2 separate regions of the Homo sapiens genome follow, and region 1 is linked to region 2. The links come from fine-mapping of genetic effects on gene expression. Tissue or cell type: tibial nerve. Region 2 holds a variant in brackets; the other region holds the start of a gene. All regions are shown on one strand. Distances are between the middles of the regions.

The links. PIP is the estimated chance that this variant, and not a neighbour inherited with it, causes the effect. A credible set is the group of variants that fine-mapping cannot tell apart.
Region 1: it holds the start of TUFM, and the variant in region 2 is the best candidate, but not a certain one, in a credible set for the expression of TUFM in tibial nerve (GTEx, PIP 0.88).

The regions. Positions count from the first base shown.
Region 1 is chr16:28,843,636-28,848,856 of GRCh38, reverse strand. TUFM (Tu translation elongation factor, mitochondrial) reads left to right here and starts at 2,509. Exons shown (of 10, transcript NM_003321.5): 1 at 2,509-2,639; 2 at 2,751-2,945; 3 at 3,377-3,543; 4 at 3,802-3,906; 5 at 3,995-4,159; 6 at 4,306-4,438; 7 at 4,523-4,627; 8 at 4,756-4,907; 9 at 5,002-5,121. The coding sequence starts at 2,588. MIR4721 (microRNA 4721) reads left to right here and starts at 4,850; the gene lies at 4,850-4,938. It also overlaps a transcript of SH2B1 not described here. RefSeq lists an enhancer at 2,158-2,647.
Region 2 is chr16:28,390,908-28,396,128 of GRCh38, reverse strand. EIF3CL (eukaryotic translation initiation factor 3 subunit C like) reads left to right here. Exons shown (of 21, transcript NM_001317857.2): 9 at 3,987-4,149; 10 at 4,274-4,377; 11 at 5,148-5,221. It overlaps MIR6862-1 (microRNA 6862-1), which reads left to right and starts at 5,078; the gene lies at 5,078-5,147. The variant G/T (reference allele first, on the strand shown) is at 3,280.

The DNA of each region.
Region 1 (5,221 bases), 450 kb before region 2:
CTATTAAAAATACAAAAATTAGCTGGGCGTGGTGGCAGGCGCCTGTAATCCCAGCTACTCGGGAGGCTGAGGCAGGAGAATCGCTTGAACCTGGGAGATGGAGGTTGCAGTGAGCCGAGATCGTGTCACTGCACTCCAGCTGGGCAACAGAGTGTGACTCTGTCTCAAAAAAAAAAAAAAAAAAAAAAGGACAGTGCGGTGTGCACACTTTTTGGGGTTTAGTGGTGGTGGATTCCTTAATCACCCTGACCGTCAGTTTTCACACCTGCAAAATGGAGGAAATAATAGTTCCTACTACCCAGGGTAGCACTGGGAGCGCTGATTGTGAAACAATAGGAATGCCTGAACATCATAAAGCTCTAGTTCAGAGTTTCCTAAACTCCTCTGAGTTTTCATTTGAAAAAAAATTTTTTTTTTTGGAGACGGAGTCTCGCTGTGTCGCCCAGGGTGGAGTGCAGTGGCACCATCTCAGCTCACTGCAAGCTCCGCCTCCCGGGTGCAAACAATTATCCTGCCTCAGCCTCCTGAGTAGCTGGTACTACAGGTGCACACTGCCACGCCCAGCTAATTTTTTGTATTTTAGTAGAGACAGAGTTTCACCGTGTTGCCCAGGCTGTTCTCGAACTCCTGAACTCAAGCAATCCACCCGCCCGGCCTCCCAAAGTGCTAGGATTACAGGTGTGAGCCACCACGCCTGGCCAAAATATTTTTATAGAGATGGGGTCTTTCTTGGCTGAGCGTGGTAGCTCACGCCTGTAGTCCCAGCACTTTGGGAGGCCACAATGGGCGGATCACTTGAGGTCTGGAGTTCGAGAGCCGTCTGGCCAACGAGGTGAAACCCCATCTGTACTAAAAATACTAAAATTAGCCAGGCGTGGTGGCACATGCCTGTAGTCCCAGCTACTCAGGAGGCTGAGGTGGGAGAATTGCTTCAACCCAGGAGGTGGAGGTTGCAGTGAGCCGAGATCGCCCCATTGCACTCCAGCCTGGGCGACAGAGTGAGACTCTGTCTCCAAAAAAAAAAAAAAAAAAAAAAAAAAGATGGGGTCTTTCTCTGTCACTCACGGTGGGGTGCAGTGTCATGATCATACCTCACCACAGCCTTGAACTCCTGAGCTCAGGCGATCCTCCTGCCTCGGCCTCCTGAGTAGGAGGGGCTATAGCTGCATGCTACTGTGCCTGGCTAATTTTAAATTTTTTTTTGTAGAGATAGGGTCTCCTAATCTGCCCAGGCTGGTCTTGAACTCCTGGCTTCAAACCGTCCTCCCACCTCAGCCTCCCAAACTGCTGGGACTATAGGCTGGCACTATAGCCACCGTGCCCAGCCTCTTCTCAGTTTTAGAAGAGTGTTTGTTATATAGCTTCCCAGTCTGTGCATAGACCCCACGGAATCATAACCTCCAGGGGAGGAATTAGGGAATCTATTTGAAACAAACACTGTCCACTGAGTCTCAGGATCTGATGAGTTCCGAAACATTAGCCAGGGTTAAGCAGCCATAATTAACACTTTGGAGTGCCCTGTGGAAGCTGCCATGAGATGATGGATGTGAAAGTTAAGGGACATTGACTACCCTTGCACCCATTCATTCAACATTCACTGCATGCTCCACCCTGTTAGGTGCTGGGGACACCGACAGATTAAAGGAGACTCAGGCTCCCCTTAAAGGCTCCCCTAGCTGGCTCCTCATCCTTGGCTCCTCATCTGCAAAATTAGATGGGTGGGGCGATGCCCAACGGAACTGCTCCTTAGGCTGCTGAGGGACTACAGGGGTGGGCAGCGAAGCTGTCTGTCTTGTGGGCTCTGGCCCTGTGAGGTCTAGCAGTACAGGGTCCCCGCAAGCTGCCTGACCTCACAGGGCCCAACACTGACTCCTACCCAGTTCATCTCCTCTCAGGGCTAGATGTCAGGCTCTCCCTATGAAGTGGATACTACTATTCCCATTTTACAGATTAGAAAACAAAGTCTCAGCGAAGAGGGAGGTCACACTTCACCCCATCCCCGAAAGGCGTCCAGGACCTGGTCCCCTACCTCCAGCTGCGGCAGAGGCGGCCAGATATCTCGCAAGACCCGCGTAGCGAGTCGGACTCCGGGGGACTCGGGGTCTCTCTCTGCCGGGCCCAGGAGGAGGTTCCTGAGCAGTCGGAGCCGCAGCTGCCTCCCGGAGCCCGAGCCCCTCCCTCCGGGTCCGGCCTAGCCCGCCTGACTCCCACTCTGATCACCTCCACAGCCCGCCGACCTGAGAACTACTACGCCCATGAGCCTTCGCGGCGCCGGTGATTTAGGGGACGCTCCTCAGTGCCCCCTGCGACCGCCAGAGAGAACTACGTTGCCCCTCAGCCCGAGAGGCGCGAGTGGTGGAAAACCTCTCCATCATACTCCGCCCTCGAGACACCAGCCCCCTCCATGACGTCTTCAGCCGCGCGCCCGACGTCGGCTGAGACGGCCATAGACACTGGCGGCTAGAGGGGCCCGGACTTGCCCTCCCAGCTCTAACTTCCGCCGGAAGTGCCTTCCAGCCGCAGGCGCCCTTCTTCTTCTGTGCGCTCGGGCTCCTGGTCCCGGCTCCCCGGTTACCGGGGCGCGAGTATGACCACAATGGCGGCCGCCACCCTGCTGCGCGCGACGCCCCACTTCAGCGGTGAGTGGTCAGGGAGGGCGATGGCGGCCCAGGAACACTTTGGGGGAGTGGTAGGTGGCTGGGTTCGGTCTGACCCCTTCCCTGCCTGACTCCAAGCTTCGGTCCCGGCAGGTCTCGCCGCCGGCCGGACCTTCCTGCTGCAGGGTCTGTTGCGGCTGCTGAAAGCCCCGGCATTGCCTCTCTTGTGCCGCGGCCTGGCCGTGGAGGCCAAGAAGACTTACGTGCGCGACAAGCCACATGTGAATGTGGGTACCATCGGCCATGTGGACCACGGGAAGACCACGCTGACTGCAGCCATCACGAAGAGTGAGTGGGGTTGGGGCGTCCAGCAGCGCCCTATCTACTGATGGGACCTGGAGCCAGGGAGGCAAGGCCAGCAGAGTGTCTGCTGGAGGAGTTTACTGTGGCCCCAAGAGCCCGAATTTGTGCGACAGGTGGATTGGGAGATGCAAGAGACAAATTTCTCCTGAACAGGAAGAACTTTGTGATCCACCAATGGCTTGGGGATCACAAAGTCGTGGGGAATGCTCTGCAAGCAGAGGCTGTACCCTAAAGAAGTCACAGGGCAGACCCTTAAGGCCCTCTAACATTTCTTTCTGACCCACAGTTCTCTCTGCTGGAAGAGTTAGAGATTGGAGGAGGTTATGTATTTAGGTGGGAGGGTTCAGGGGCGTGGTCTAAGCTCTGCCTCTAGCACTGGAACTTTAGCTGAGAGGTGTGTTCTTTTCCTCCTTTAGTTCTAGCTGAGGGAGGTGGGGCTAAGTTCAAGAAGTACGAGGAGATTGACAATGCCCCGGAGGAGCGAGCTCGGGGTATCACCATCAATGCGGCTCATGTGGAGTATAGCACTGCCGCCCGCCACTACGCCCACACAGACTGCCCGGGTCATGCAGATTATGTTAAGGTGAGGGTTGCTGGGACACTGGAGACAGGGCCAGAAGCTGCCTCTTGTCAGGATAAATGTTAGGCTTGTGGGGAGGAGATTAAGATATTCAGTGTTTGGGTATGAGATGGCAGGTTTGTGGTCTTGGCCACGCAGAATGGGTGGTGAGGAGATGGTAGAGAAAGGTGGGCCTGAGTTTCTAACTGCTACACTTGGCTATATGGATGTGAACTGAAGAGCTCGTTGAACTTGGCTGTTTCCTTTCCTTCTCCTCTCCAGAATATGATCACAGGCACTGCACCCCTCGACGGCTGCATCCTGGTGGTAGCAGCCAATGACGGCCCCATGCCCCAGACCCGAGAGCACTTATTACTGGCCAGACAGGTACTCAGAGCCTGGGTAAGGATGCAAAAGGGAAGAGTGGGGAGTTGGGCCCCTCTGTATATTGTCCCTGTCTCTCTGGCATCTACAGATTGGGGTGGAGCATGTGGTGGTGTATGTGAACAAGGCTGACGCTGTCCAGGACTCTGAGATGGTGGAACTGGTGGAACTGGAGATCCGGGAGCTGCTCACCGAGTTTGGCTATAAAGGGGAGGAGACCCCAGTCATCGTAGGCTCTGCTCTCTGTGCCCTTGAGGTGAACGCGGGGTCAGGCAGGGCAGCTGCTGCAGAGGGTGGGGCTGGATGGGCACCCAGAGCTCTGCTTTGTGTCTGGGAAGTGGCTCTTGATAATCGAGGGAAGTAGAATGGGGATTTCAGAGTCCTGGCACTTCCCCTCAACAGGGTCGGGACCCTGAGTTAGGCCTGAAGTCTGTGCAGAAGCTACTGGATGCTGTGGACACTTACATCCCAGTGCCCGCCCGGGACCTGGAGAAGCCTTTCCTGCTGCCTGTGGAGGCGGTGTACTCCGTCCCTGGTGAGGACTCTGTCTGTTCCCACGCACTCTCTCTAGCAGAAGCCTAGCTCGGGGTCCCTGATATCCTGTCTTATTCCCTCCCAGGCCGTGGCACCGTGGTGACAGGTACACTAGAGCGTGGCATTTTAAAGAAGGGAGACGAGTGTGAGCTCCTAGGACATAGCAAGAACATCCGCACTGTGGTGACAGGTTTGGGAAGCCAGTCTGGAGAGCAGGGCCTGGCTGAAGGGTGGCCTTACCCCGGCAGATCCCTTGTGCCTTCCCTCTGTCTCACATTCGCCTTCCTTCTCCCTGCTCCTTTTCCCTTTCCGTCCTAGGCATTGAGATGTTCCACAAGAGCCTGGAGAGGGCCGAGGCCGGAGATAACCTCGGGGCCCTGGTCCGAGGCTTGAAGCGGGAGGACTTGCGGCGGGGCCTGGTCATGGTCAAGCCAGGTTCCATCAAGCCCCACCAGAAGGTGGAGGCCCAGGTGAGGGCTCCAGGTGACGGTGGGCAGGGTTGAGCCAAGCTCTCCCCAGCCTCCAGCCAAGCCCAGCTCACCGTCATTGCTTGCTCTCCTCCAGGTTTACATCCTCAGCAAGGAGGAAGGTGGCCGCCACAAGCCCTTTGTGTCCCACTTCATGCCTGTCATGTTCTCCCTGACTTGGGACATGGCCTGTCGGATTATCCTGCCCCCAGAGAAGGTACGGTGGGTGGGAGGAATGTAGGGTGGAGGGGGGACTTTTTATATTACCTTTGCTTCACTCATAGTTCCAAAGATACACTGTGACAACCCGAGTGGCT
Region 2 (5,221 bases):
TCATAATTATTTTGAAATTCATTCTGTCTTCTAAAGATTGGGCATCTCTAATTCCAAAGTCTGAAACTTCTGGAGCACCATAAGTGGACAATTCCACATCTGACCTCATGTGACAGGTTGCAGTCAAAACTTTGTTTCATGCACAAAATTATTTAAAATACTATGTAAAATTGCCATCAGGCTGTTTGTATAAGGTGTAGATGAAACACACAAATTTCATAGTTAGACTTGGAGCCCTTCCCAAGATACCCCATTATATATATGCAATTATTTGAAATTTGAAACACTTCTGGTTCTAAGCATTTCAGATAAGGGATATTCAGCCTGTATTTTATTTTTCTTTTATTTGTGTGTTTTTTGTTTTTGTTTTTGAGAAGGAGTCTCACTGTGTTGCCCCGGCTGGAATGCAGCGGTGCAATCCTGGCCCACTGCAACCTCTGCCTCCTGGGTTCAAGTGATTCTCAGGCCTCAGCCTCCTGGGTAGCTGGGACTACACGTGAGCACCACCACGCCCAGCTAATTTTTATATTTTTAGTAGAGATGAGGTTTCAGCATGTTGGCCAGGCTGGTCTTGAACTCCTGACCTTAGATGATTCGCTCGCCTCAGCCTCCCAGAGTACTGGGATTACAGGCATGAGCCACCACACCTAGCCTACATGTATTTTCTCATCCTCTTTTTTTTTTCCCCGTTTCTAGTTATATATATTTTCTTATTATTCATTTTGTTTTTTTCTGCTGGTTTGGGAGTTAGACGTGCTATGCTTTTAGAGGTTATTCTTGAATTTTTTTTTTTTTTTTTTTGAGACACTAGCCTGTTGCCGAGGCTAGAATGCAGTGAGTGGCGCAATCTCGGCTCACTGCAAGCTCCGCCTCCCGGGTTCACGCCATTCTCCTGCCTCAGCCTCCTGAGTAGCTGGGACTACAGGCACCTGCCACCATGCCCAGCTAAATTTTTTTGTATTTTTAGTAGAGACGGGGTTTCACTGTGTTAGCCAGGATGGTCTCGATCTCCTGACCTCGTGATCTGCCCACCTCAGCCTCCCAAAGTGCTGGAATTACAGGCGTGAACCACCGCACCCAGCCAAATTTTTTTTTGTTAACCTGTAAACTAACTTGTATACCTAATCAGAATAGTCTAAAATTAGTTGAATCAATGTTCTGAGGAAAACCCTTGAGAAAATAAAGTTAGAATTTCAAGTGTCAGAATCTTTTTGACATTGAGAGTTTGTGGCTTTGTAGTGTAGAAGAATAATTCACAGACACTATTTCACTTGTGTAACAAGGGAGACAGATTTTCAGATTAATTTCCAACCGAGCAAAAGCAGGATTTATATAGGAGAAAGAGGAACAAGGAGAGAGGGCAAAACCACAGAACAGTGGATTCTGTTTGCCCGTTTTTCTGTGTAAACTCTGATATTAACTCTCCTTGAGTATGCCACCCAGGGTTGGTGGATGCTCTAGAAAACACGATAGGCCCTCTGCCAGTAAGGGTTTTCAGCAACTCCAGATTCAGCCAGTCTAAATATACCCTTTCCATCATCAGCATTTCTCAGCCTTCATCTTTTGGTCAAAACAAGCTTGTAAAGGAGTGGGTTTATTCTCATGAGCTTCAGCCTCTTTGATGTGGGATAAGGCCATCTGTTGTCTTATGGTGATCTGAAGGTATTAGGGGGAAGTTCATCTATACCTGATGTCATGATTGACCTGTGAACTCTTTTTCTTTTTTTCTTTTTTTAGATGGAGTCTTGCTCTGTTGCCCAGGCTGGAGTGCAGTGGTGCAATCTCATCTCACTGCAACCTCCGCCTCCCTGGTTCAAGCAGTTCTCCTCAGCCTCCCAAGTAGCTGGGATTACAGGCACGTGCCACCACGCCTGGCTAATTTTTTGTATTTTTAGTAGAGACGGGGTTTCGCCGTGTTAGCCAGGATGGTCTCGATCTCCTTATCTCTTGATTGCCTGCCTCGGCTTCCCAAAGTGCTGGGATTACAGGCGTGAGCCACTGCGCCCAGCGACCTGTGAACTCTTACAGAGCTGCTGTCTACTTCTAAGAGTTACCTGATTCTGGAGGCGTTTTTTTGTTTTTGTTTTTGTTTTTTAAGTGAACCCCAGGATCTCTAGTGAGACTGAATGTCCGAGTTAGGATCCTAAGCAAGGGTATACATCTAGGGCTTTCCATCAGTAGTTGTGGTTGGGAAGGCATGGGAAAATGGTGTGGTCCTCTGCAGTGTAGTTAGGCCTGACTTCCGTTGGTGTCTCTCAATAATGAGTTTTTAGTCTCTTAACTATGTATTAAGTAGAGGTAATACTCGTTTAGAAATGTTGCTTTTATCTGTTGATTATATAGCTGAGGATATAAACATTTGTTATCTGATAATTTCTAACAAGATATGAATATACCAGAGTATAATCTGTCATAGGAGAGGTCAAGCCAAGTCTTAGGTCTTTCAGTTAGAATTTCATACAATAGTACATTTCCCTTTTGAGGTGTGTATCATACTATCTTTAGTGCTAGAAGTAATACTTTAGCCAAGGAAGTTTAAGTTCTTTTGAAGCATTCATTTTAAAAAATAGCTTTAGTTCTTCTGATCTCAGAGCTATACAGATGGTTTGGACCAAGAGGTTTTAGTTTAATGAACATGCTTTGCATATTTGCAAAGGATTTTACCTATAAAGTGAGTCATCATTAGAGTCTTGCAGTGGTACAGGGGAAAGATCCATAAGCTTTTGTTGTTGTTGTTGTTGTTGTTGTTGTTGTTTTTAATAGAGACGGGCTTTTTACCTTGTCACCCAGACTGGTCTCAAACTCCTGGGCTCAAGCAATACGCCCACCTCGGCCTCCCAAAGTGCTGGGATTACAGGCTTGAGCCACCGTGCTTGGCCAGTCCATACACTTTTGTTGAGAGTTATGGCATTGGTCTTCTGGCAAGGGAAGACTTAATTTAACTGGTAAACTTATAGACTATTCCAAAAACATATTCAAACCTTTTAAGCAGTGAAAATGAAATTTATTTATAAATGTTCAAATGGTAGATTATGGTTATTACATATGAGTTTTCAAAAATGTTGAGTCTTTCTGGAAAGATTTATTCTTCAGTATCTGTGCAAAGTTTGAAGTAATTTGTCTTTGCCATTTGGTTTGTATTTTGTTACATAAATACATACTCAAGTCTGGAGATGGTTTCAGGCAACATCCAGTAGCCTAAGACCATTTTAAGGTAGCTGGTGATCTTTTTCTGTTTTGTGGGGACCTTTTTTGTAATGAACATTTTTTTAAAATTCA[G/T]AATTTAGATTAATCGGTTGTCAAGAGAGGAGAGAAAGCGATAAAACAGTTTAGGAATAGTAAAAAAGAAAAAAATGTTTTTATATATTTGGGGGAACTGATTCATTGATTAGTTGGTCAGTCTGGAGAAAGCAGCTGGTATCAAAGAAAATAAGTTGTTTGTGGATTCTTTGGAAAACTGTAGATGTTAGCTTTGGAGCAAAATGACAGGTTGGTTTTTTTTTGTTTTGTTTTGTTTTGTTTTTTTGGAGACTGAGTCTTGCTCTGTCACCCCGGCTTAAGTGCAGTGGCATGATTGTGGCTCACTGCAGCCTTCTCTGCCTCCCAAGTTCAAGTGATTCTCGTGCCTCAGCCTCCTAAGTAGCTGGGACTACAGGCGTGCACCACCATGCCTGGCTAATTTTTGTACTTTTAGTAGAGATGGGGTTCCACCATGTTGCCCAGGCTGGTCTTGGATTCCTGACATCAAGTGATCTACCATGCTTAGCTGACAGGTTGTTTCTATTAATATGTCTACAGTGGCCTGGTTAGTACTCTGTCTTGTTAGAGATGGCTATGGTTATGGTTCACTGTGCCCTCTAGGTCATTGTTGTAGAGCATAACTTGGACCCAGGAGCTGCTGGAGGAAAAGAGGAAGTTGATGGGAGGAAGAAGCCTTAGAGGTGGGGAGGGGCTGATCTGTCATCTTCTCCCATGTCTGTCGGCAGGGCACCCACCACAGATGAGGACAAGAAGGCAGCCGAGAAGAAACGGGAGGACAAAGCTAAGAAGAAGCACGACAGGAAATCCAAGCGCCTGGATGAGGAGGAGGAGGAGGACAATGAAGGCGGGGAGTGGGAAAGGGTCCGGGGCGGAGTGCCGTTGGTTAAGGTGAGGGTTTCAGAGGTAAAATGAATTGGGGAACAGTTTGGGAGGACATAAAGGTCCCCTTGTGGGGAAAAGGCAAGGACAGTTTCCCGCTGGCATGTACATGACGGGATATGTACTGATACAGGAGAAGCCAAAAATGTTTGCCAAGGGAACTGAGATCACCCATGCTGTTGTTATCAAGAAACTGAATGAGATCCTACAGGCACGAGGCAAGAAGGGAACTGATCGGTAAGATTCGTGGGCCTGGGCAGTGGGATTGCAGGGTGGCAGAGGGTGGAGGTTGGGGGAAGGGATTGTTGGGAGGGTCTGTGTGTGGCTGTAGTAGAGGGAATTGTATGCTTGGGGCATCCCCGTCCATTATCTGCTGTTTACTCTTCTTGTGACTTAAAACCAATCACTTAACGTTTTGGATCTGTTTTCCCATCTATACAATGAGATAATGTTCTCCTCTTTTTTTTTTTTTTTTTTTTTTTGTTTGAGATGGAGTCTCGTTGTTGCCCAGGCTGGAGTGCACTGGCGCGATCTCGGCTCACTGCAACCTTTTTGCCTTCTGGGTTCAACCGATTCTCCTGCCTCAGCCTCCTGAGTAGCTGGGATTACAGGAACCCGCCACCATCCCTGGCTGATTTTGTACTTTTAGTAGAGATGGGGTTTCACCATGTCTCGAACTCCTGACTTCAAGTGATCCGCCTGCCTCAGCCTCCCAAAGTGCTGGGATTACAGGCATGAGCTACCACACCTGGCTTTTTTTTTTTTTAAGATTAAAAAAGTAAAAGAGTGTTTACCTTCTTTAGTTATTAGGTAACAGAGGATGGTGGTAGGTGTGAAGCATTTCACAGCATTCCAGGATGGTTGGGATTATTGTTGCTTCTGTTTGGAATTTATAAAGGAGAAGCAGGGATATGGGTGATGAGGAGGGCGCGTTATCCGAAGCGGGCATGCTGGGAGAGACTTTGTGATTTGTCTCCAAAGCCTCACCCAGCTCTCTGGCCCTCTAGTGCTGCCCAGATTGAGCTGCTGCAACTGCTGGTTCAGATTGCAGCGGAAAACAACCTGGGAGAGGGCGTCATTG